Regions from separate parts of the Homo sapiens genome. Here region 2 is linked to region 1. The links come from fine-mapping of genetic effects on gene expression. A gene starts in region 1. The other region holds a variant in brackets. All regions are shown on one strand. Distances are between the middles of the regions.

The links. PIP is the estimated chance that this variant, and not a neighbour inherited with it, causes the effect.
Region 2: its variant is fine-mapped to the expression of PCED1B in whole blood (GTEx, PIP above 0.99).

The regions. Positions count from the first base shown.
Region 1 is chr12:47,078,004-47,080,914 of GRCh38, reverse strand. It overlaps PCED1B (PC-esterase domain containing 1B), which reads right to left and starts at 1,294. Exons shown (of 4, transcript NM_138371.3): 1 at 1,190-1,294. AMIGO2 (adhesion molecule with Ig like domain 2) reads left to right here and starts at 956. Exons shown (of 3, transcript NM_001370299.1): 1 at 956-1,453; 2 at 1,667-1,773; 3 at 1,850-2,911. The coding sequence starts at 1,913.
Region 2 is chr12:47,220,806-47,223,716 of GRCh38, reverse strand. The region is part of intron 3 of PCED1B (PC-esterase domain containing 1B); the gene reads right to left. Among named protein-coding and RNA genes, the nearest start is that of PCED1B-AS1, 5.8 kb to the right of the region's middle. RefSeq lists enhancers at 86-816, 817-1,547, 1,548-2,279, 2,575-2,911. The variant C/T (reference allele first, on the strand shown) is at 1,468.

The sequences.
Region 1 (2,911 bases):
TGTCCCGCACGCGCCACGAGCACGCTTGCAAAAGACGGGGAGGTGGCGGGGACAGAGACAGAGGAAATGAGAGAGAGAGAACGAAAGAGAAAGGAGAGAGAGGGAGAGAGAGAGGGAGAGAGAAGAGGGGAAGGAGAAGAGAGAAAAAAGAAAAAAAGGTCTGCTCTGGGATTATTATTATTATTTGGGTTAATACTCTTATCTTTGCATTCCAGCCGGAAGGTCGGCTCCAAGCCTTCTTTCCTGCCCTCCTCCTTCTTGAATTGGACACCATCCCTGTTGCCGCCTCCTGAGTCAGGAAAGGGATAGAACTTTCCCAGGGAGGTGAGGGGTGTCCCCGTGGCGATTTCCCGGTTACTTCCTCCCAGCAGATATCCCTGTGGAGAGGAAACGTTCCCGACTTCCCTCCCCGCGACCTCCTCCCTAGAAACGAGCGGAGACGTCAGGCTGCTTCTGGGTTTATTTTGTAAACCCAGACAGTCAACTGCACTTGGCGCAGGCAAAGCCTCCTTGGCCCTTGCCCCAAAGCAAAGCTCTAAGAGGTCCGGGGATTCCTTGGCCTGGGTGGGGAGAGAGACGTGACCTGTGCGGCCGCCGCGAAGTGGGTCTCCAAGGGTGAGACCCCTCCCTCGGTGGCTGGGCGTGTCCCCTTTAGCCTTCCTGGACCCCATTACCGCCCGGCTTGGAGCTGGACGAAGGGACGTAATTGGTAGGCGAGTGGGTTGGGCATCTTGACTCAAGGACCAGAGTCTGGGCCTCTGGTGTGGACCCCTGCCCCCTCCCCGCTCTGCGCGGCCGTTCTAGAGGTCCGGGTGGGAGCTGGAGGAGGAAAGCGGGAGGAGGCGGCGAGGCCGCGGGGCGGTATGAGGGGGCGCCGGCCGCCTCTCGGATTGGCTGCGCCGCCGCCCCCTCCGCATCGCGCGCCCCCCACCACGCGCCCAGCCTGCTCCCTCCCGCAGGCTCCGAGCTGCTGCCCGCAGGAGGCAGGACGCGCAGGGGTGGGACCGGCGCCCCAGCCCGTCTCCCGGCCCCGGGCGCGCGGGAACCCCGGGTCCTGCAGCCTCCCGAGTGCGGAGAGGCGGGGCCGCCCGCTGCCGCCCGGCTGCCTGCGCCCCCTCCCGCGGCCCCGGCTCTGGGAGCGGGGCGCCCCGCGCGCGGGCACACGGCGGCCAGAGCGCCGAGGCGGTACCTTCAGCCTGCAATGAGAGGAACCCGGGAGAGCCCCCGGGAGCCAGCGAAGAGCTTGGCTGCTGCGTCCAGGGCTGCTGCTGCCGCCGCGGCTGCTTGAAACTCCTCAAAGTTGAGAGCCGGCTAGAGGGTGCCGCCCGCCGGGAGCCGGAGGGAAAGGAAGTCGGAAGGTGCAAGAGTGACAGACACGGACAGACGGACGCGCAGACCTTCGGAAGGCACTGCGTAGGCAGCCTCCCCGGAGCCCACGAGGCTCCCCAGCACCGTGAGTTTTTTCCTGGATGGGTGGTTGCTAAGTATTTCCGTTTAATTGTTTGTAGCGTACGTTTGCGTATAGTTGTGTCTGTTGGAGGGAGTTTAAAACAACAACAACAACAACAACAACGCAGGATGCACCTTAGGAAAAAATTGAGTTTCTGATGGTGGGTGAGACGGTGGGTTGTATGGAGAGAATGTGACTGTACATTTTTATAAGCAGGACTAACCCAGGAAAGAGGAAAAAATACATTTAACAGTGAAGAGGCAACACAGAGCTCCCTATTGTGAAATAAAACCCATTTCAAAAGTTATTGGAAAGAAAGTAAGGTATGGCTCTTATGGGTTAACTAGTGGTAGTCAGTTTCTGCTTTTTACTCCCTCTGAATTATTAATTGTTTGCCAGGTTCACTGGTGGGAGGCTGAGCCGGTGGAAAAGACACCGGGAAGAGACTCAGAGGCGACCATAATGTCGTTACGTGTACACACTCTGCCCACCCTGCTTGGAGCCGTCGTCAGACCGGGCTGCAGGGAGCTGCTGTGTTTGCTGATGATCACAGTGACTGTGGGCCCTGGTGCCTCTGGGGTGTGCCCCACCGCTTGCATCTGTGCCACTGACATCGTCAGCTGCACCAACAAAAACCTGTCCAAGGTGCCTGGGAACCTTTTCAGACTGATTAAGAGACTGGACCTGAGTTATAACAGAATTGGGCTTCTGGATTCTGAGTGGATTCCAGTATCGTTTGCAAAGCTGAACACCCTAATTCTTCGTCATAACAACATCACCAGCATTTCCACGGGCAGTTTTTCCACAACTCCAAATTTGAAGTGTCTTGACTTATCGTCCAATAAGCTGAAGACGGTGAAAAATGCTGTATTCCAAGAGTTGAAGGTTCTGGAAGTGCTTCTGCTTTACAACAATCACATATCCTATCTCGATCCTTCAGCGTTTGGAGGGCTCTCCCAGTTGCAGAAACTCTACTTAAGTGGAAATTTTCTCACACAGTTTCCGATGGATTTGTATGTTGGAAGGTTCAAGCTGGCAGAACTGATGTTTTTAGATGTTTCTTATAACCGAATTCCTTCCATGCCAATGCACCACATAAATTTAGTGCCAGGAAAACAGCTGAGAGGCATCTACCTTCATGGAAACCCATTTGTCTGTGACTGTTCCCTGTACTCCTTGCTGGTCTTTTGGTATCGTAGGCACTTTAGCTCAGTGATGGATTTTAAGAACGATTACACCTGTCGCCTGTGGTCTGACTCCAGGCACTCGCGTCAGGTACTTCTGCTCCAGGATAGCTTTATGAATTGCTCTGACAGCATCATCAATGGTTCCTTTCGTGCGCTTGGCTTTATTCATGAGGCTCAGGTCGGGGAAAGACTGATGGTCCACTGTGACAGCAAGACAGGTAATGCAAATACGGATTTCATCTGGGTGGGTCCAGATAACAGACTGCTAGAGCCG
Region 2 (2,911 bases), 140 kb before region 1:
ATCCTCACCCCGCTTCCCACCCTCCTGCAAAGGCAGAGAGGTACCTCCTTAGGCGTAAAGCTTCCTCAGCAGCTCAGGGACTTCGCTCCCGGATATCCCCCAGTGAGGGGATAATTTGCATTCTGCATTTTCTTTACCCTCCTTGGCCTGGATCCTTCTTTTTAGCATTAAACACATTCTAGTTTCTTGCTTTGAAAAAGAAAGGAAACATCTTTGACTCCACCTCCAGGACAGTCCTATCTTTTGCCTCCACTCCAAGGCCACATTTAAAAAAAAAAACTTGCTTGCACTGACTGGGTCTGGGTCTGGGCCCCACCTCCCACTCACTCCTCCGTTTACTTTAATTTGGCTCTGACTGGATCAAAGCCAAGGAATGTTTGTTAGTAAATCACCGATGATTTCCCTGTTGCTCCTTTCAGTGGCCACTTTTTGGTTCTTACAGTATGAGGGGTAGGGGCACTACTGACTGCTCCCTCTGAGAAACCCAGCCCTCAAGTCCACGTATTTGTGACACCCTTGTATCCTGTCTTTCCCTAGTATCTTTTGAGGGTTTCTCTTTCTCTGGCAGTTCCCCAAATGTTGGTCTTTCTCTCTCTCTCTCTCTTTTTCTTATTTCTCCCTCCCTTCCAGGTCTTTCTCAAGGCCCACTGAAGGGCTCTTTTCTTCTCTTCTTCAACATTCTTATCCTCGTGTGTCCACCCATTTTCAGAGTGTCAGGAAATGAGGTAACCCTATGTCCCTATTTGCCCCAAACAGTTCTGGTTTCTGCCTGTTTCCCCAGAATGATTAGTAGCACCCCAAACCCTTAAGAGTCCTGGTTTGGATGGTTACAACGGACCATCCCCTTATCAATTCCCATTTGTATGCAGATGACTGAGAATTGGGGCAATAAAGCACACTGGCTGAGAGGGAGGGGCTCTGGGGTTGGCCCCCTGGGTTTGATCCTGCTCCACTGCTTACTAGCCCTTGAGTCCCTGGGCCTATTAAGCAACCCCTCTGCCCTGAAGAAACCTCATCAATAAAATGGGAACAATATTACTGCAGTTTTCCTAACAAGTGAGGGTTAAATGAACACATGTAAAGTTATTAGCATGACACCGCCACATTTCTAAGTGCTCAGTGAATGTAGCTATTATCTTTGTCTCTAGCCCAGACCTGTCTCCTGAGTTTCAGACATATTCAGGTAGAGAGAATAAAGTTATCTGGGGTTGGAGGGGTAGGAGGTAGGAAAAGCAGTCTATGCAGGCCCCTATCACTTCCCAATTCTCTCTCTTTTTTTTTTTTTTTTTTTTTTGAGATGGAGTTTTGCTCTTGTTGCCCAGGCTGGAGTGCAATGGCGTGATCTCAGCTCACCGCAACATCTGCCTCCCAGGTTCAAGCGATTCTCCTGCCTCAGCCTCCCAAGTAGCTGGAATTACAGGCACGTGCTACCACGCCCGGCTAATTTTTTTGTATTTTTAGTAGAGA[C/T]GGGGATTCTCCATGTTGGTCAGGCTGGTCTCGAACTCCTGACCTCAGGTGATCCACCCTCCTCGGCCTCCCAAAGTGCTGGGATTACAGGCGTGAGCCACCACGCCCGGGCGTTTTTTTTTTTTTTTTTTTTAATTTTTTTTTTAAGAGATAGAGTCTCACTCTGTCACCCAGGCTGGAGTGCCATGGTGCGATCATGGCTCACTGCAGCCTTTATCTCCCAGGTTTAAGAGATCCTTCTGCCTCAGCCTGCCAAGTAGTTGGGACCACAAGTGTGCATCCCATGCCCAGCTAATTTTTTAAAATTTTTTGTGGAGACAGGCTCTTGCTTTGTGGCCCAGTCTGGTCTTGAACTCCTGGTTTCAAGTAAACCTCCTGCCTTGGCCTCCCAAAGTGCTGGGATTACAGCCATAAGCCACCATGCCCAGCCACTTCCCACTTCTCTAGACACTCATTTATCTTCCCATCAAACTGTGGCTGAATTTCTCAAATAATTGTCTTGTGACCTTTGAACAGTCTCCCTAAATGTAAATATTGCATTGACCAACAATGGGAATGATGGCAGCACATTCTCACCAGGCAATTTCAGAGAGCTGCTGTATAATTTTTCTTGAAGCACTGGCTGGGAATACATAATTGGGTGGAAATATACTTTGCTTCTGAAATGTGTGGATAAAGTCATTTTTATTTTTGATGACTGGTTTTGTTTTAATTGTGAAGAAATCCTTAGGTTGATCTGTATCCTGGCAATCATTTAAAAATTTTCATGTTGGCGGGGCGTGGTGGCTCACCACCTGTAATCCCAGCACTCTGGGAAGCTTAGGCAGGAGGATCACTTGGCCCAGGAATTCAAGACCAACCTGGACAACATGGTGATATCCCTTTCTTAAAAAAAAAAAAAAAAAAAAAAAGAATTTTGATGTCTAACAAATATTGGAAACAATATATATATTTTGAAGATATAGCTTAGGGAGGAGGGGAATGTTGCAATATATATTTTGGGAAGCTGAGCACAGTGATCAATGTCACATTTGTTTTCAGTTTTATGGTTAAATATTTTACTTTCCCCCAATTTTTCTTAGTCCTTAAAAAGTGTGTCTTTGATTAAAACATTATTTTTTAATTGGTATAGTTTTAATTTTATATGTTTTCTTACATAAAACTTCATCATCTAGGTTTTAAAGTTTCAAATTCATTTAATATGTTAGAATAATTCCAACATTTTGCATTCTGTAAACTTTTTATGTCTTGGGATATGATCCTTTCTTCTTGGGATCTTCTGAAAGCCCGCAGGGAACCATAGGGTTTGTATAAGCCCAGAGGGCCTTTTCTCATGTCTTTATGTTTGTCTCTGTGACTCACCTTTGAATGTTCCCCAACCCTTTCCTGTTACTGAAATTCTGCTCCTTCATTAAGACTCACGTTAAAAGACAATTTTGTCAGA